Linked DNA regions of Homo sapiens: region 1 is linked to region 2. Evidence: fine-mapped expression QTL. A gene starts in region 2. The other region holds a variant in brackets. All regions are shown on one strand. Distances are between the middles of the regions. Region 1 has its middle 52 kb from the start of IL6. Region 2 holds the start of IL6-AS1 (IL6 antisense RNA 1).

The links. PIP is the estimated chance that this variant, and not a neighbour inherited with it, causes the effect.
Region 1: its variant is fine-mapped to the expression of IL6-AS1 in macrophages (Alasoo 2018, PIP 0.95).

The regions. Positions count from the first base shown.
Region 1 is chr7:22,669,920-22,680,483 of GRCh38, forward strand. No RefSeq gene overlaps it. Among named protein-coding and RNA genes, the nearest start is that of IL6, 52 kb to the right of the region's middle. RefSeq lists a silencer at 7,811-8,105. The variant G/GT (reference allele first, on the strand shown) is at 5,302.
Region 2 is chr7:22,721,671-22,732,234 of GRCh38, forward strand. IL6-AS1 (IL6 antisense RNA 1) reads right to left here and starts at 5,950. Exons shown (of 2, transcript NR_131935.1): 1 at 5,898-5,950; 2 at 3,725-5,035. It overlaps IL6 (interleukin 6), which reads left to right and starts at 5,530. Exons shown (of 5, transcript NM_000600.5): 1 at 5,530-5,611; 2 at 5,774-5,964; 3 at 7,023-7,136; 4 at 7,844-7,990; 5 at 9,736-10,328. The coding sequence starts at 5,593. The coding sequence ends at 9,903. RefSeq lists a silencer at 4,945-4,994 and an enhancer at 4,980-6,179.

The DNA.
Region 1 (10,564 bases), 52 kb before region 2:
GAATCCCGGATGTTGCCACCGGAATCCCAACTCATTTCATTTCAGTTGCTTAGAAGCAGGGCTCAATTTTTTACATCTTAACATTTTACCAATACTTCCATAAAGGAACTCTGTCCTCACCATGATAGAAATTAAAGGTTCTATTAAAGTTTTTGTCTAAGAAGAAAATTACATATTAACAGGCATTCTGGTGTTATTTTTACCCTTTATTTAAAAGGTTAAGGTTCTAAGGACATTAAAAAATTGCAATAGTATTATTGGGAGTAAATTTCATTCCCATGTTTAGGAAACATGAATTAGCAAATGATGATGTCATAGTTGAATTTTGCAATACAATTAAGGATTTTATAACTACCTTAAGTCTAAACCACAATACATATAAGGCATGGAAAATAAATTCTATAAATGTCATTGTCACAAATAAAAAATCCATTGAACATTTACAAAGTTAATAATAATTCATAATGTGCTTATGAATAATCATGAAGGTGAAGTATATTAGCTTAAGAACTTCTTAAGAATTGTTATAAAAATTCCACATTCCATCTACACCACTTCTGGTTAGCAGGGGTATTCTACTCCTAATTAAAAACGCTTCTCTTAGCAGATGTTTTCTAATACACCCAAGGCCAGAACAAGTTGGCTTCCCCTTCCCTCCTGCCCTGTAGATGGAGACTGGCAAACACATGGATAGGACAGACAGCTGAGGACTGAATGCCAACCTTAACCAGAGCACTATCCCACCCCATTCCACAGCTTGGCCCTGACATCAAACCAGCTTCCTGGGCTCCAGATTAGAACAGCAAGCAAATTCCTCATGTTCCATTAAAGTGTCCTTAGATAATTCAAAAGAAAACCTTACAATCTGCTTGAAAATATGGGTCATTTTGAACTAATAGGATGACAGCCAGTCTGAATTCATGAAAACCCACTTTATACTTTTTTTTTTTTCCATAAGAAGTGCTGCTACACCCCTGGGCCCATCTGCAGACGAGCTGCCCTGCCCAAGCCTTTGGGGAAGCAGCCCCCTTTATACTTTAAGTAATTTATAGAAGTTTTTAAAAATATTTTTATTACTTTCAAAATCATGATGTAATTTAGGATAAGCTGGCAAAGTACTGTTTTATGGGTATTTCTTGCTTAGTGGCTAGGTACGAAAGACTTCCAAGGCAACCATTCATTAAGTTCTAAATTTTCTAAATACAACTTGGAAATCATTCATTCTTTGAGTTTTGTTTGTTTTTAAGCTTTTAATAAAATTATATTCCCACTCAAACGTAATAACAATGGTTCTCACCAGTTAGAATTGAGATTTACCACTGGCCACACTATCTTAATTAGGCTATGACCTCTTGTTGGAGCAGGAGTTGCAGGCAAGCCTTCAAAAAGGCCATGCTGCACCACCTGGGCTTTCTCAAGAAACTCTGCTCGGGAGGAGAGGACCTGGCAATCTGGATATGCAAATGCAGAGCAAAGCGTGACTCAAGGGCATCAGTGCAGCTTCCCAGAGGTGCCCAAGCAGAGCAGGGGTGCCATGTTGAGGATGAGTGCATGCTGTTATTTCAGCATACAAGTCAGTTCGGGTCGCATCACATCCATGTCCCTCTCTCACCCTCACACACACAGCAAGTGCACTTGCTCCATGTATCAGCCTTCTTTCTCTTGCCCACAGCTGTCCTGCAGAAGTTGATATATTGACCCACATTCCAGAATCCTGAGGAAGCCTAGCCCAACTTCTTGAAAGCCAGCACCAAAATACTCTTATTTGTATATTAAATGAGAGAATCAAAATTCCAGTATGCTTTGTCTGATGAAAAAGATGCAGGGAAGTGAAGCTCCATGTAAACAATTACCCAAGTTCAGAAAGGCATGATTTGGCCAAGCAGATATGAATCATTATAAAAGCAAGACTTCTAGTTTTACTTGAAGAGTTAAAGATGTGTGTTTATTTCCTCCAAACCTACTTAAAGGACATTACAAAAACAAATTTTAAGAAAAAATAACACTAAGCAGCCAAGGCAGTCTGCCTGTAGGACTCCAGCCACCAGAGTGGGCAGAGTGCAATACCAGCAAAAAACAGGATTAGGGGATAGGGTCAAACTGGAATGAGGAAACATGTCCACACACATCCACACCAATATTGCCCATGTTGTCAACCTTTTGGAGGCTCAGCTTCAGAATGCTTGGAAGGCAAGTTTCTGTCCTTTAGGCAAGAGATTAGACAACTCCCCTCAGGGGAAACTAAATATCAAAGGGAAACCTGCCTTTGCACATTTAAAGTTCTTCCAATGGAAAAAAATGGGAGACCTGCCAGATCACCCTTCAGAGAAGCCCAGCAGCTAATGAAATCCCCCTAAATAAGGCTTCCAATCAACATTTTAGTGCCTCTCCCTTAAAAATAAGTGACCAGTGCTGGGTGGGGTGGCACAAGCTGGTAATCCCAGCTACTAGGGAGGCTGAGGTGGGAACATTCCTTGAGCCCAGGAGTTTGAGTCCAGCCTGGGCAACAAAGTGAGACTCCCATCTGTAAAAAATAACTAAAAAACAAAAATAAATAAGTGGCCAAGATATTTGTGAAAAGCAACTCTCTTGAAGGAAACTAACAGAAATAAGAAATTCAGAAGAAATAAACAAGGAGATAAAAAAATGTTTTCAGGTAATATTAATGTCCTCAGAGAGATAGAAGATATATTCATGAAACAAGACATCATTTTTAAAAAGAGAGCTCTTGGGAATTCTAAATGTGATAGCAGAGATTAAAAGCTCAATGAAAGGGTTAAATAATAAACTTGAGGAAATCTCACAGGAAGTATAAGATAGAGACAAAGAGATTGAAAAGGGAAAGAAGATTTTTTTAAAAACAGGATCCATCCAGGAAGGCCAATACCCAGAAGGAGAGAATAAAGAAAACAGAATGAGAGAAAGAGAGAGAAATATAATCCTGATACACAATGCAGCTCAAATGTAGTTAGGGCTGACATAATTTAGCACATCATAGAATGTCGAGGTCTCAGCCAACAGTGGCAAAACCAGAAAACCAACAAAATTTACAATGCAGAGTCCTCAACAGGCTCAGGAACTGGCAGTTTCAGATAGTGCTTCTGAAACTGAAGGTTACGGTGAAAGAAACCAATCTAGGATGGGCTGGGTAAAAGCTGTGTGAGAAGCAATCAGAGCCTTCATTCCCCTCTCTGCTCCACATCACTGAGTATGTCCTCTTCCCCTCCCCCATACAAGATGGCAGGTTTATTCTTTGAAGGAATCCTTCCTGACCGGAGGTCAATTGGCACAGCGGTTGATTTGAGAACAGTAACACAAACCATAAAATGGTGAGACCCGCAGCCCTTCTTCCCCAGCTCTGTTTCCCCAATTGGCCATCAGAACAGTGACAGCATACTTGTAACCTTGGCAGGAGATTAGAAAGGTTTCTTTCTGAGGAATCTGACCAGTCCATGAAAAAAGGTCAGAAAATACTGAAGCAAAAAAGTTTCCTAAAACAAACAGTGCTTCCAGCTCACCCTACAGTGAAGCTCAAAGTCAACAAGCCTTGCCTGCAAGTTGAGAGCATCCAATCCACTTTTTAGTCCTCTAATCCTGAACAAACATCCAAGGGTGCCAGATGTCTAAGGAAAGCCCAGGGCAAGAAAACTGGAGAACAAAACAAATAGATAAAAGCAATTCGGAGGAAATAAAATACACAGTGACTAAAACTTTAAAAGTATCATGAATACCCTCAGGGAAATAAGAGACAATGACATACCTTTGAAACAAGAGTAGGAAACTATAAAAAGGAACCTAGGACCAGAAAATAGAATTGAGGCATTCTAGAAAGGTGAGTAAAATGACAGAGGGGAAAACAAAAACAAGAAAATGAAGATATTAGAGAACCAATCCAGGGGTCTGAATATCTGATTAACAAGAGTTTCCAAACAAGGGAGAAGAAAGCCAACGAGAGGAAATCGTCAGTAAAATTATTCAAGCAAATTTCTCAGAAGTGAAAGACTTAAGTTTCCAGATTTCCTGAAGGGGCCACTGAGGGCCCAGAATAATCCAGGCAGATTATTGTGAAATTTCACAACACTGGGGACTAAGGGAAGATCCTTTTTAACCTGATTACTGGAGGATGTTCTCCCCCAAAATAAGAGAGTAAACCAAAAAAGAAGAGATGAGGAATCCAACTTGGGAGAAAAATCTAGAGAATTCCAAGGTCCACAGTGAAGGAAAGACTCAAGATAGATGACAGCTCTGCAACAGCCTGGAGAGCATTCAACTCAGAAGAGGAAAGGGATCGGGGGTGGGGTGGGGAGTGGGCTATCCTAAGAGAAAAAAAGAAAGTGATAAACCATCCAATGTTGGTGTCTATTAGAAGGTGCGTCTGCTAGAAGAGGTACAAAGAAAATTAGGCAAATAGGAAAAAAGGCAACAATTTCAGGAAAAACTAGAAAAGGCAACCATAGTTCACAGTGCTCAACTGGAAATTGTATTTGCATAAAAAGTTAGGTAAATACAGAAGTTTAATCAAAAATTGTATTATCTTGGGAGGGTGGGGCATGGGAACAATAAGGAAGGATAGTATAAGAGTTGGATGTTCATCTATCATAACAGATGATTATGTCTAAAAGTCACCATTGCAAACAGTATATCTAGGCATATCATTTAGAAGTACTGAGATGTATATGCAAGAAGAAATGGCTAAAAGAATCAAAAGTAGTTGCCTCTAGGAAGAAGCAACGAAAGAGTGTGAAGAGTGATACAGGGAACCATTGTAATTTCTTTAATACTATTTAACAATACTTTTATTTTTATTTATTTATTTATTATTTTTATAGAAACAGGGTCTTGCCATCTTGCCCAGGCTGGTCTCAAACTCCTGGGCTCAAACAAGTCTCCTGCCTCAGCCTCCCGAAGTGTTGGGGTTACAGGCATGAGCCACTATGCCTGGCTTAACTTTTTCAAAAACTAAAATTAAAAAAAAAAAATTCTTTTAGAGACAAAGTCTCACTGTGTTGCCCAGGCTGAAGTACAGTGGAGTGATCACAGCTCACTGCAGCCTTGAACTCCTCGGCTCAAGCAATCCTTTTGCCTCAGCCTCCCAAGTAGCTAGGACTGCAGGCATGAGCCACCAAGCCCAGCTAATATATTTTTTATTTTTAGGGATGAGATCTCACTATGTTGCCCAGGTTGGTCACAAACTCCTGGCCTCAAGCAATCCTCCCACCTTAGCCTCCAGAGTCACTGGAATAACAGACATGAAGCACCATGCCTTTTTAAATGATGTGCATGTATACCTTTGATTAAAAT[G/GT]TTTTTTTTTTTTCAAAAAGAGACAATAAAACAAATATAAAGGATGTTAGTTCTTAACTAACTCAACTTATCAACTCCTCCAGATAAGGGGTCTTATTCCCCTTCTTCTCAGCATCTGGCACAGAGAGGCACTCAACAAATGTTTGCTGTTTAATTGATTGCTTTATTGATTAATTGAAACAAGCAGTCAAAAATATTCATAGGTTTCTTGAGCTACACTGATAGAAAATTCTAGGAAAAAAATTAATAGCTAACACTCTTTAAACATCTACTATTTGACATCCTCTGTTCTAAGTGCTGGGCATTTATCATATTGCTAAATCCTCAAAACAATCTCACGAGGAAGATACTGACATTGTTCCTGTTTTATCAACAAAGAAACTGAAGGACAATGAGGTTGTATAACTCATTCCAAGTCACACAGCCAGGAAGTATCAAAGCTGGGTCTAGGCCAGGTGCGGTGGCTCATGCTTGTAATCCCAGCACTTTGGGAGGCCGAGGTGGGTGGATTGCCTGAGCTCAGGAGTTTGAGACCAGCCTGGGCAATATGGTGATGCCTCATCTCTACTAAATTAGCCGGGCGTGGTGGTAGGTGCCTGTAATCCCAGCTACTCAGGAGGCTGAGGCAGGAGAATTGCTTGAACCCAGGAGGTGGAGGTTGCAGTGAGCCGAGAACACGCCACTAACACTCCAGCCTGGGCAACAGAGCGAGACTCTGTCTCACCAAAAAAACCAAAAACAAACAAAAAACAGCTAGGCCTAAACCCAGGCTGGCTGACTCTGAAGTCTCTACTCTTGACTGATGAGCTTTATAATCAAGAAGGAGGTGTCCTGTGGTCACGCCACAACTGGAATATTATGTTCTGTTTTGAACACACACACACACACACACACACACACACACTTCAGAAGTGGAATGTAATCACAGGAAGTTGAACAGGATGTGAGGAGATCAAAAACCATAACAGTGGGTGTGAGGAATGGTTTTTAGATGAAAACAGTCTAATCATGCTTGAAGAGGGCTGATAAAGAACAGGGATTGGATTTGTTTTTTATGACCCAAGTAGTAAAACCAGAATCAACAGTAGAGATTAGTTGGGGCTATATTTCAGTTTAAGGAAGAAATTTTCCACAGTTCCATAGGACATCAAGTGCTTTGGAAATAGTTTCATTACTGAAAATCATAAGCCCATCAACCTCCAGGCTCGGAAGAAACTAAGGAATTTCATCCAGTCACCCTCAGGATGCTTGGATCACCTTTATAGCACACTCCTAAAAGGTCTTCTCAAACATCCCAGGGACAAAGAATACACCAGAGATGGCACACTCTTTTCTTTTTTAATCAGAGTTACCTGTGCACATAGTTGAGTCAAATCTGTAAGATTCATTAAGAAAAGCAGAAGTCCTTCCCTAGAGGCACCCACTTTCAATTTTCTTTGGTAATTCTTTTAGAAAGATTTACCTCTGTATTTCTAAATAACATGCTTGTATTGCTATTTCTTTATTTTTCCGTGTTAGGTATTCTCCACTAACCACCCACAATGTTGGATGAAGATTTCATTATTTCATTCCGCATACACAATACACACACCCTCTCCATGTTCTTATTATTCCAACATAGTTTATGTACTGATTTGGGTTAGATCAGTATTTAGTGTTCACATTATTATAACTACATAAACACTATTCAGAGCTGAGTCATGGGGTAAATCATAATTATTTCTCCTCTTCTATACAACTCTTGTGTTTCCCTGAAATTAATTGAAGAACCTTACTTTTTGTTTTCACTTAGTTTTTCATGTATTTATCAGTAATTCAAACCCTCAATTTTCTGCCAAATGTCTGAATTTCCTCTCAAGACATTCAGACACATCGGATATTCAAGCCATTTCACCTCTTTGAAGAAGCCTCTCTCAGAGCCTCTGGGCCTATCCTAATGTGAACTGATTACCTCCAAGCCTGGTGCAGAGTTACCATCTGGGAATTTTCCTTTACCATTTCTGGAGATTCCCTTTACCCTTCTCCCACTTTGTGTATCTCCAGTCTTTTTCTCCTTTGGTTTTCTCCATTGTTTTAGTGGTGCCAGAGTGGCTTCCTGAGAAAGGCTGTGTGGGAGGTAAACTTTTTGAATCTTTTCAAGGCTAGATATGTCTTTATTCTACCATAACTTGATTCAAAATTGTATTCCAGCTTCTCTTGTTGCTACTGAGAAGTCTAGAGTCATTCTGGTAGCTGGTTCTTTGTATATGACCTGTCTTGTCTTCCTTGAAGCTTTTTTTTTTTTTTTTTTTTTTGAGACCAGGTTTCACTCTTGTTGCCCAGGCTGGAGTGTAATGGTGCGATCTCAGCTCACTGCAACATCTGCCTCCCAGGTTCAAGTGATTCTCCTGTCTCAGTCTCCCTAGTAGCTGGGATTACAGGCGCCCACGACCACGCCCGGCTAATTTTTGTATTTTTAGTAGGGACGGGGTTTCATCATATTGGTCAGGCTGGTCTCAAACTCCTGACCTTGGGTGATCCGCCCACCTCAGCCTCCCAAAGTGGTGGGACTACAAGCATGAGCCACCGCGCCTGGCCTCCTTGAAGATTTTAATATCTTCCTGAGTGTCCTGAAATTTCACAATGCTATGTTGGGTGTGGGTCTATTTTCTTGCATTGTGGTCGGCATTCAGCACCACATTCAGTTTCCAATTTCAGTCAGGAAACTCATGTCTTCTAGTTCTGGGAAATGTGCTTGAATTACTTTGTTGATGATTTCCTCCTTTCAGTTTTCTCTGTTTCCTCTTTTGAATACTCGTATTCAAATACTGTACTTCCTGTACTGATCCTCTAATTATTTTATCTTACTTATTTTCCCCTGTTTTCTGTCTCTTTTCTTTCTCTTCTAATTTCTGAGATGTTTCCTCAACATTACCTTCCAGCCATTCTATGGAAATATTCATTTTTGATGTCATTATTAATTTCCAAGAGCTTATTTTTGTTTTGTTAATTATGTTTTCTAGCATCCAATTTTCATTTTGCAGTTAAAATATTTTATTTTCTATCTATAAAAATATTAATAATTTTTTTCCTTGAAGGTTTCTTCTGCTTGCATAATCCTTTTTCCCCGCTCTGAGTTAGCTTTCTCCCATTGTTTATTTGAATGTTTTGGTCTTTATCTTTCATTTGAGGCTATTCTCAGTGGTCTGCTATTCCTTGATTGTCTACTCTTTAATAGAGGGATTAAAAAGCTGATTGGAAGCTCTGATCTTTGAATATGGCTGTCCAATTTTGGCTCCACGGAAGGTTAATCTAGCTGAGCTGTTTGCTGGGGGAACCTCCAACCTCAGAAACATCAAGTATTTCTTCTTGGGCTGGTCAGATATGGAAGGGTATGCTCTTCTGTTCTTCTGTTTGGAAACTGGAGTCCTGCATGACAGAGTCTAAGAGCTCAGGGTGTTTTGGAACAATACCTCGGCCACTGCCTTCACCTATGCTTGAATCCACAGTTCAAAGACTATGTTTTATCATTTCTAGAGAAAAAAACCTCCAGGCTTCTGCTAAGGTTAAAGTGAGGATGGAGCAATGTTCTAGCATCGCTGAATTGTTGGAAGGAGAGGCCCAGCACTCCAACTACTTCTCAACTTCTCTTTACTCTGTATCCATAGATACGTAGCTGGTGCCACCAATTCCAAAGTTTTTGAAAGATTCAAAGTTAAAATCAAGGATTTCACAACGTTTCCCACTACCAGCTTAACATTCACCTTGCCCAGATGTGTTAAGTTGGTTACCATTTGTCCATCACTTGCTACCTTCGAAATATTTTTGCTTGAGCTCCTGTCTCATTCTCCTATCCTTGTGGGTCTGTGCCACTTAAAAACAGTCTTTATTTTAGTTTGAGTGGTTTGGGGAGAGAGAAAGAACTAGAAAGGTATGTTCAATCTGCCACCTTTACTCCAAATCTCCCCCATTCCACTTGTGGGCAGCTATAAAAGAAAATTTCTTCATATTGGTGTAACGTCTTTGTGGGAAAACTGATCATGCTATCAAAATTTTAAATGCAAATAACTTTTAGTCCAGTAATTTTACTGCTAAAAATTATTCTGAAGATATATTCATAAAAGTGGATGAAGAAATATTCACTAAACATAAATACATAATATATAAATACATAATAAATGAAGTACATCAATACTTGAAGAAACAAACAGGAAATAGTCTGTGTCTATCAGTAGGAACGTGAATAAATAAATCACAGTACAGTTGTCCCTTGGTATCTGTGGGAGCTTGATTCCTGGACCCTGTCGGATGCCAAAATCCATGGATGCTCAAGCTCCTTATATAAAATTGTATAGAATTTGCATACAGCCTATACATATCCTCCCATATACTTTAAATCATCTCTATATTACTTATAATAGCTAATACTATGTAAATGCTATGTAAATAGTCATTATACTATATTTTTAGGGAATAATAACAAGATTAAAAGGTCTGTATATGTTCAGTACAGGTGAAACCATTGCTTTTTTTCCAAATTATTTTCAATCTGCAGTTGATTGAAGGCTCATAAAGTCTAAGTAAGTTGTCCAAAATTATTCTGTGATCAAAGGCAAGTCATTTGACCCGTCTAGTCCTCAGTTACTATTTTTTTTTTTTAGATGGAGTTTCACTCTGTTGCCCAGGCTGGAGTGCAATGGCACAATCTCAGCTCACTGCAACCTCTGCCTCCTGAGTTGAAGTGATTCTCATGCCTCAGCCTCCCAAGTAACTGGGATTACATCGTGGCGCACACCACGATGTCTGGCTAATTTTTTGTATTTTTAGTACAGACGGCGTTTTCCCATGTTGGCCAGACTAGTCTCAAACTACTGACCTCAAGTGATCTGCCTGCCTCGGCCTCCCAAAGTGCTGAGATTACAGGCGTGAGCCACTGCGCCTGGCCCTCAATTACTTCTTTTATAAGGACCTAATAATGCCATCAGGAAATTTGCAAACTTTGTGTTTTATATAGCTGAGCACATGTATGTTTGAAGATGTGTGTGCACTTACACATTAATCTGCCTCTACCCCAGAAGAGAATAATGAAAACCTTACAGATGATATCAAATGACCTCTCCCAATATGGTCTCAAAAACTGTGACCTACATTTCTTCTCAGTTGAAATACCATGAGCTTGTGAATGATCGTGTGTGTGTGACTGTGTGTGTGTGTGTGTGTGTGTGTGTGTGTGTGTGTACACATATTCAGCTTCCCCTAACTTAATTTCTGTCTCAGTGGTGCT
Region 2 (10,564 bases):
TGGTGGCAACTGCTTAGGCAGCAAGCCTCCAAACAAGCCTTTAGCAATAGGAAGCCATTTCCACACATCCAGATCACTTGCCAAGCTGATGGGTGCCTTCCCTCCTGTCCCCACCTCTCCCCGACCCCCGTCTCACCCACAGAAAAGTAGCACATAGAAAATATGGCTTCCAGGGTGAGAGATATAGGGAATCCCACAGTGCCCTTGGGGGACACAGTAATGTGGCTCAGACATAGACCACTGTACAGATCCAGCAGCACAGGAAGGGCTGCAGGCCTGGGAGAAAAGTGACAGCAGATGGCCGGTCCAGGCTTTCTGGGTACCCAGGCCTGTAAGGCCACACTCATATGAGGCAGGCAGCACCCCTTGGAACAATATCTATGGTAGGTCTATAGACCAAGGGCTCTGCTCTGTGCCGCAGACATCCACACACATACATAGGTACACATGACATAGAATTCAATAGCTTGAAGAAATTGCCTATGATTCTTCAACTTGCTTACCTGGATCTGAATTCTTCCATAACATTTTAAATCAATCCAGGTGTACCCATCTTCAGAAATAATGGACCCCAATGTCTCAGAATTACAGAGTCAGAGTCCTCAACATGTCCAAAGCATTTCGTGGAAATTATTCCACCATGAAGACTAGAATGGCCTCTCTTCATGGATTCAGCTTGCTAAGGAGGCTTAGTTCAGAGGGACTAAGACACTCTCCTTTTAGCAAATAACTAACCAAAAGGGCAAGGAAGGGAGGTAAAAGACGTCATAACCAGGCCAGTAGAATCCCCTGGTCTGGCCATTACATGTGATGATTTCAAATGGGTTCTTAGTACCTTAATTTTGAGGGAAAAGAGTAGAGGAAACCAGCCAATGCTTTGCATGCTTAGTTTCTGCTGATGACACTGAACTCAGAGAACTGAGATCTTTGGAGAAACCAAAGATGGCTCAAATGACTCGTGATAATAAATGAACGTATTACTGCTCGCTGACAAATTGAAGTTTCCTAATTATAAAGCAGAACCAGTGGCCACCACCATAGAAAGCCTACCCCACAGATGGAGAAGAGGCAAAGCACTGAAACTCAGTCCGAGGGACCTCCCCAGCCATGGGGGCAGGGCCAAATGGGGCTTCTTCAGGACCAGCAAAGCCATTTTTCTCATCAGCAAACTAGCTTCAGAGAAGTTTGCAATCAGGGCACTCTCTTCCAAGCCTAGAGACCCAGGGAAAGGGGTACGGGGGTGTCCCAAGGCAAAGAGAATCTACACTTTTTGCCCCCGGAGAGGCTACTTCCCTCCCAAGATGCCTGGGATTTTCCACTTCAGCAGGGGGAAGGTAAGTCACATAGCAAAATAATGAGGGCACAGAACAGATGACCTCCCTATAGAGTTTTGAATGAGAAACACAGCAGGGCAGATGTGCCCCTTCTCTAGTCTAGGAGGAGCTAGGTCCAGCCCCTGAACATCCTCCCCCTCAGAAAAGCTGAGGCCAGACTAAGAATTCACCAGACCAAGGAGCTACAACAGGACATCAGAGCTGAGGCTGCAAAGCCAGGACTGAGACCAGACCAGGCAGGAAACTGTCAAGAGCTTTGGTCACCAGGCCTGGCTGCCCTCCAACATCAGCTGGCTCTTTCTAAATTGACACACCACATGTCCCTAAAATTCTCTCTTCAAGTAATACCACCATCAAAGCAGGACATTTCCCAGAGCCTTAGAGCCTGGTGTCTGCTCAGTGGGACTCAACCCCAGAAGAAGCTGTTAAATCACCCACTGTTTCAGTTTACAAACTTCTTACGACTTGGCAACAAGTGAAACTACATTCTGGCAGCAACTGCAAGTTCCCTAGTACCCAGGACTTCCCGTTTTTTCTTGCTGTACTCCCTCCTGTTAAATCACAGACTCATCCATCTCCAACCCCCAGAATATAGAGAAAGAGCACAACACTACATCTTAACTCCTGAGACGTGGAGAACACTTCTCCTCCTGAGAGCTTAAGTACCAAATGGAAGCTACTTTTCCCCCTTGGTCTCAAATGTATTACTAGATTCTGAACTGGACTCCACCATCACGTAAGAAAGCAGTCATGGGCAGTAATTCTGGGAGATCCAGATAGGACATGCCAGCCCCACACTGGTGGCATAGGAAGCCAAGTTGCTGCTTCCTCCCTGTGCACTCCCATTTGTCTGGCCTCTCTTGATCTCAGCTGGCGCTCACTTCACATCAGCTATGATGCAATCCAGCAACTAAAGTATTAGTTAATAAATGCTGACAGCACAGCCTTTTCTGGTCACGTATTCATACTAAAATACGGGGGAGAGTTGGGGGGAGAGGGGGATATATGGGAAATCTCTGTACCTTCCTCTCCATTTTGCTATGACCTAAAGCTGCCCTTTAAAAAATACAAGGGGCTGGGCACAGTGGTTCACGCCTGTAAACCCAGCACTTTGGGAGGCCGAGGCGCGTGGATCACCTGAGGTCAGGAGTTCAAGACCCGCCTGGCCAACATGGCAAAACCCCGTTTCTACTAAAAATACAAAAAGTAGCTGGGCGTGGTCGCATGCATCTGTAGTCCCAGCTACTCAGGAGGCTGAGGCAAGAGAATTGCTTGAACCTGGGAGGCGGCGGTTGAAGTGAGCCAAGATCATGCCATTGCCCTCCAGCCTGGGCAACAGAGCAAGACTCCTTCTCAAGAGAAAAAACAAAACAAAACAAGAAAAAACAAAGAATGAGCTCTCCACGCGAAAAATCCATTGAGATGCAAAGGAAGGAAGCTATCATTGTGGAATTGCACATGTCAGTTACATTAACGTTTTTGGAGCAAGGTAGAGCTCATCTCTCCCACAAGCAAATTCCAGCCCAAAGCATTGATACTAATAAAGTGCCATGCTGCGATGTGCAGGGGGCAGACAGTGTCTCCAAGCTCCCTACACACATGCCTTCCCACAGTTTGCCCTTTCTTGACCCCAGAAGCATCAGGCCCCTTCACCCTCGAGGGCCACTATCAGGAGTTTGAATTAATGGCAATCACCATGCACAGGGAAGGCTGTGGAATTCTGACATAAAAACACTTAGTGGAGGGCTTGGAAAAAGTCTAGTAGGAGCAAGACGCAAGCTGGACTAATTATCTAAAACAAGAGACCTGGTTTGGGGATCTTAATGTTCTCAAAAAAGAAAATTATTATTATTTTTCATTTTGCACTTTGTGCCATAAAACATTTTCAACAAAACATAGAATCTCATTTCTTTTGAGGGAAAATGATTGGGAGACCAGCTCATTGCTGGCACAGAGGCCTGGTTCATTCATAATTCCTTCATAGGCAAGACACCAGGTGAACCGATATAGCCGAGCTGGAAGAGCTCTCCAAGGCAGAGACTCTGAGCCAAGGAATGTTCAAAGAGCTAGCATGTATTGTGGGATTACTATGCGCCAGGAATTTTTTACACTGCATCACGTTCCATCTTCACAACAGCCCTAGAAAGGAAGAACTATTATTACCCCCGTTTTATAGGTGAATAAACAAGGGCACAGGTCCTTGATGTAACAGCCAGGATCAAACAGCTGGGAAGACGAGAAAACCTTTCCCAGGCTAGGATAACAGAGGATTTGGTTGAAAATACAGGCAATTAGGTGCTACCTCTGGGAAAAGGGGCCAGGAGAGGAAGGAGACACTTTTCCCTGCATGCCCTGATGTCCTATTTGAACATTTTATCATGAACACGAACTTCCTATTTAAAAAACACTTTTTATTGAAAAGATAAATCTGTGTGTTGTATTGTGTCACTCAGTTCAAGTACTTGAAATTTATTGAATTGTATTTTCTAAAAAATAGATAGTTGAGTAAAAGCAAGCTCACATTACATAGACGGATCACAGTGCACGGCTGCGGAGCTGGGAGCAGTGGCTTCGTTTCATGCAGGAAAGAGAACTTGGTTCAGGAGTGTCTACGTTGCTTAAGACAGGAGAGCACTAAAAATGAAACCATCCAGCCATCCTCCCCCATTTTCATTTTCACACCAAAGAATCCCACCGCGGCAGAGGACCACCGTCTCTGTTTAGACAATCGGTGAAGAATGGATGACCTCACTTTCCCCAACAGGCGGGTCCTGAAATGTTATGCACGAAACAAAACTTGAGTAAATGCCCAACAGAGGTCACTGTTTTATCGATCTTGAAGAGATCTCTTCTTAGCAAAGCAAAGAAACCGATTGTGAAGGTAACACCATGTTTGGTAAATAAGTGTTTTGGTGTTGTGCAAGGGTCTGGTTTCAGCCTGAAGCCATCTCAGAGCTGTCTGGGTCTCTGGAGACTGGAGGGACAACCTAGTCTAGAGCCCATTTGCATGAGACCAAGGATCCTCCTGCAAGAGACACCATCCTGAGGGAAGAGGGCTTCTGAACCAGCTTGACCCAATAAGAAATTCTTGGGTGCCGACGCGGAAGCAGATTCAGAGCCTAGAGCCGTGCCTGCGTCCGTAGTTTCCTTCTAGCTTCTTTTGATTTCAAATCAAGACTTACAGGGAGAGGGAGCGATAAACACAAACTCTGCAAGATGCCACAAGGTCCTCCTTTGACATCCCCAACAAAGAGGTGAGTAGTATTCTCCCCCTTTCTGCCCTGAACCAAGTGGGCTTCAGTAATTTCAGGGCTCCAGGAGACCTGGGGCCCATGCAGGTGCCCCAGTGAAACAGTGGTGAAGAGACTCAGTGGCAATGGGGAGAGCACTGGCAGCACAAGGCAAACCTCTGGCACAGAGAGCAAAGTCCTCACTGGGAGGATTCCCAAGGGGTCACTTGGGAGAGGGCAGGGCAGCAGCCAACCTCCTCTAAGTGGGCTGAAGCAGGTGAAGAAAGTGGCAGAAGCCACGCGGTGGCAAAAAGGAGTCACACACTCCACCTGGAGACGCCTTGAAGTAACTGCACGAAATTTGAGGATGGCCAGGCAGTTCTACAACAGCCGCTCACAGGGAGAGCCAGAACACAGAAGAACTCAGATGACTGGTAGTATTACCTTCTTCATAATCCCAGGCTTGGGGGGCTGCGATGGAGTCAGAGGAAACTCAGTTCAGAACATCTTTGGTTTTTACAAATACAAATTAACTGGAACGCTAAATTCTAGCCTGTTAATCTGGTCACTGAAAAAAAATTTTTTTTTTTTCAAAAAACATAGCTTTAGCTTATTTTTTTTCTCTTTGTAAAACTTCGTGCATGACTTCAGCTTTACTCTTTGTCAAGACATGCCAAAGTGCTGAGTCACTAATAAAAGAAAAAAAGAAAGTAAAGGAAGAGTGGTTCTGCTTCTTAGCGCTAGCCTCAATGACGACCTAAGCTGCACTTTTCCCCCTAGTTGTGTCTTGCCATGCTAAAGGACGTCACATTGCACAATCTTAATAAGGTTTCCAATCAGCCCCACCCGCTCTGGCCCCACCCTCACCCTCCAACAAAGATTTATCAAATGTGGGATTTTCCCATGAGTCTCAATATTAGAGTCTCAACCCCCAATAAATATAGGACTGGAGATGTCTGAGGCTCATTCTGCCCTCGAGCCCACCGGGAACGAAAGAGAAGCTCTATCTCCCCTCCAGGAGCCCAGCTATGAACTCCTTCTCCACAAGTAAGTGCAGGAAATCCTTAGCCCTGGAACTGCCAGCGGCGGTCGAGCCCTGTGTGAGGGAGGGGTGTGTGGCCCAGGGAGGGCTGGCGGGCGGCCAGCAGCAGAGGCAGGCTCCCAGCTGTGCTGTCAGCTCACCCCTGCGCTCGCTCCCCTCCGGCACAGGCGCCTTCGGTCCAGTTGCCTTCTCCCTGGGGCTGCTCCTGGTGTTGCCTGCTGCCTTCCCTGCCCCAGTACCCCCAGGAGAAGATTCCAAAGATGTAGCCGCCCCACACAGACAGCCACTCACCTCTTCAGAACGAATTGACAAACAAATTCGGTACATCCTCGACGGCATCTCAGCCCTGAGAAAGGAGGTGGGTAGGCTTGGCGATGGGGTTGAAGGGCCCGGTGCGCATGCGTTCCCCTTGCCCCTGCGTGTGGCCGGGGGCTGCCTGCATTAGGAGGTCTTTGCTGGGTTCTAGAGCACTGTAGATTTGAGGCCAACGGGGCCGACTAGACTGACTTCTGTATTTATCCTTTGCTGGTGTCAGGAAGTTCCTTTCCTTTCTGGAAAATGCAGAATGGGTCTGAAATCCATGCCCACCTTTGGCATGAGCTGAGGGTTATTGCTTCTCAGGGCTTCCTTTTCCCTTTCCAAAAAATTAGGTCTGTGAAGCTCCTTTTTGTCCCCCGGGCTTTGGAAGGACTAGAAAAGTGCCACCTGAAAGGCATGTTCAGCTTCTCAGAGCAGTTGCAGTACTTTTTGGTTATGTAAACTCAATGGCTAGGATTCCTCAAAGCCATTCCAGCTAAGATTCATACCTCAGAGCCCACCAAAGTGGCAAATCATAAATAGGTTAAAGCATCTCCCCACTTTCAATGCAAGGTATTTTGGTCCTGTTTGGTAGAAAGAAAAGAACACAGGAGGGGAGATTGGGAGCCCACACTCGAATTCTGGTTCTGCCAAACCAGCCTTGTGATCTTGGGTAAATTCCCTACCACCTCTGGACTCCATCAGTAAAATTGGGCGTGGACTAGGTGATCTCATAGATCCTTCCTGCTGGAACATTCTATGGCTTGAATTATATTCTCCTAATTATTGTCAAAATTGCTGTTATTAAGTATCTACTGTGTGCCAGGCACTTTAAATAAATATTGTGTCTAATCTTCAAAACAAATTTGCAAGGAAGGTTTTTGGAGATAAGGAAACTGAGACTCAGGATTAAGTAACACACCTAAAGTCACAGGTGAGCTTGGAACTGAACCCAAGTGTGCCCCCACTCCACTGGAATTTGCTTGCCAGGATGCCAATGAGTTGTAGCTTCATTTTTCTTAGAGACTTTCCTGGCTGTGGTTGAACAATGAAAAGGCCCTCTAGTGGTGTTTGTTTTAGGGACACTTAGGTGATAACAATTCTGGTATTCTTTCCCAGACATGTAACAAGAGTAACATGTGTGAAAGCAGCAAAGAGGCACTGGCAGAAAACAACCTGAACCTTCCAAAGATGGCTGAAAAAGATGGATGCTTCCAATCTGGATTCAATGAGGTACCAACTTGTCGCACTCACTTTTCACTATTCCTTAGGCAAAACTTCTCCCTCTTGCATGCAGTGCCTGTATACATATAGATCCAGGCAGCAACAAAAAGTGGGTAAATGTAAAGAATGTTATGTAAATTTCATGAGGAGGCCAACTTCAAGCTTTTTTAAAGGCAGTTTATTCTTGGACAGGTATGGCCAGAGATGGTGCCACTGTGGTGAGATTTTAACAACTGTCAAATGTTTAAAACTCCCACAGGTTTAATTAGTTCATCCTGGGAAAGGTACTCTCAGGGCCTTTTCCCTCTCTGGCTGCCCCTGGCAGGGTCCAGGTCTGCCCTCCCTCCCTGCCCAGCTCATTCTCCACAGTGAGATAACCTGCACTGTCTTCTGATTATTTTATAAAAGGAGGTTCCAGCCCAGCATTAACAAGGGCAAGAGTGCAGGAAGAACATCAAGGGGGACAATCAGAGAAGGATCCCCATTGCCACATTCTAGCATCTGTTGGGCTTTGGATAAAACTAATTACATGGGGCCTCTGATTGTCCAGTTATTTAAAATGGTGCTGTCCAATGTCCCAAAACATGCTGCCTAAGAGGTACTTGAAGTTCTCTAGAGGAGCAGAGGGAAAAGATGTCGAACTGTGGCAATTTTAACTTTTCAAATTGATTCTATCTCCTGGCGATAACCAATTTTCCCACCATCTTTCCTCTTAGGAGACTTGCCTGGTGAAAATCATCACTGGTCTTTTGGAGTTTGAGGTATACCTAGAGTACCTCCAGAACAGATTTGAGAGTAGTGAGGAACAAGCCAGAGCTGTGCAGATGAGTACAAAAGTCCTGATCCAGTTCCTGCAGAAAAAGGTGGGTGTGTCCTCATTCCCTCAACTTGGTGTGGGGGAAGACAGGCTCAAAGACAGTGTCCTGGACAACTCAGGGATGCAATGCCACTTCCAAAAGAGAAGGCTACACGTAAACAAAAGAGTCTGAGAAATAGTTTCTGATTGTTATTGTTAAATCTTTTTTTGTTTGTTTGGTTGGTTGGCTCTCTTCTGCAAAGGACATCAATAACTGTATTTTAAACTATATATTAACTGAGGTGGATTTTAACATCAATTTTTAATAGTGCAAGAGATTTAAAACCAAAGGCGGGGGGGCGGGCAGAAAAAAGTGCATCCAACTCCAGCCAGTGATCCACAGAAACAAAGACCAAGGAGCACAAAATGATTTTAAGATTTTAGTCATTGCCAAGTGACATTCTTCTCACTGTGGTTGTTTCAATTCTTTTTCCTACCTTTTACCAGAGAGTTAGTTCAGAGAAATGGTCAGAGACTCAAGGGTGGAAAGAGGTACCAAAGGCTTTGGCCACCAGTAGCTGGCTATTCAGACAGCAGGGAGTAGACTTGCTGGCTAGCATGTGGAGGAGCCAAAGCTCAATAAGAAGGGGCCTAGAATGAAACCCTTGGTGCTGATCCTGCCTCTGCCATTTCTACTTAAGCCAGGGTTTCTCATATGTTAACATGCATGGGAATTCCCTGGGCATCTTCTTGTGGTGTGGAGTCTGACTTAGCAAGCCTCGGGTGGGTTTGAGGGTCAAATTTCTACCAGGCTTATATCCCTGGTGATGCTGCAGAATTCCAGGACCACACTTGGAGGTTTAAGGCCTTCCACAAGTTACTTATCCCATATGGTGGGTCTATGGAAAGGTGTTTCCCAGTCCTCTTTACACCACCGGATCAGTGGTCTTTCAACAGATCCTAAAGGGATGGTGAGAGGGAAACTGGAGAAAAGTATCAGATTTAGAGGCCACTGAAGAACCCATATTAAAATGCCTTTAAGTATGGGCTCTTCATTCATATACTAAATATGAACTATGTGCCAGGCATTATTTCATATGACAGAATACAAACAAATAAGATAGTGATGCTGGTCAGGCTTGGTGGCTCATGCCTGTATTCCCTAAACTTTGGGAGCCTAAGGTGAGAACTCCTTGAACTCCTAAGGCCAGGAGTTCAAGACCAGCCTGGATAACATAGCAAGACCCCATCTCTACAAAAAACCAAAACCAAACAAACAAAAATGATAGTGGTGCTTCCCTCAGGATGCTTGTGGTCTAATGGGAGACAGAACAGCAAAGGGATGATTAGAAGTTGGTTGCTGTGAGCCAGGCACAGTGCTGATATAATCCCAGCGCTATGGGAGGCTGAGGTGGGTGGATCATTTGAGGCCAGGAGTTTAAGACCAGCCTGGTCAACATGGTAAAACCCCATCTCTACTTAAAAATACAAAAAAGTTAGCCAGGCATGGTGGCATACACCTGTAACCCAGCTACTCAGGAGGCTGAGGCACATGAATCACTTGAACCCAGGAGGCAGAGGTTGCTGTGCACCACTGCACTCCAGCCTGGGTGACAGAACGAGACCTTGACTCAAAAAAAAAAAAAAGAAGTTTGTTGCTATGGAAGGGTCCTACTCAGAGCAGGCACCCCAGTTAATCTCATTCACCCCACATTTCACATTTGAACATCATCCCATAGCCCAGAGCATCCCTCCACTGCAAAGGATTTATTCAACATTTAAACAATCCTTTTTACTTTCATTTTCCTTCAGGCAAAGAATCTAGATGCAATAACCACCCCTGACCCAACCACAAATGCCAGCCTGCTGACGAAGCTGCAGGCACAGAACCAGTGGCTGCAGGACATGACAACTCATCTCATTCTGCGCAGCTTTAAGGAGTTCCTGCAGTCCAGCCTGAGGGCTCTTCGGCAAATGTAGCATGGGCACCTCAGATTGTTGTTGTTAATGGGCATTCCTTCTTCTGGTCAGAAACCTGTCCACTGGGCACAGAACTTATGTTGTTCTCTATGGAGAACTAAAAGTATGAGCGTTAGGACACTATTTTAATTATTTTTAATTTATTAATATTTAAATATGTGAAGCTGAGTTAATTTATGTAAGTCATATTTATATTTTTAAGAAGTACCACTTGAAACATTTTATGTATTAGTTTTGAAATAATAATGGAAAGTGGCTATGCAGTTTGAATATCCTTTGTTTCAGAGCCAGATCATTTCTTGGAAAGTGTAGGCTTACCTCAAATAAATGGCTAACTTATACATATTTTTAAAGAAATATTTATATTGTATTTATATAATGTATAAATGGTTTTTATACCAATAAATGGCATTTTAAAAAATTCAGCAACTTTGAGTGTGTCACGTGAAGCTTAATATAAACAAGTTTCTTGTCACTGCCACCACCACGACCAAAAAAAGCTAATCAATCACTATATATAATACATATATATACTATATATAATAAATATATATACTATATATAATACATATATACACTATATATAATACATATATACTATATATACACATATATACTATATATACACATATATATTATGAATGTATATATATAGTATATA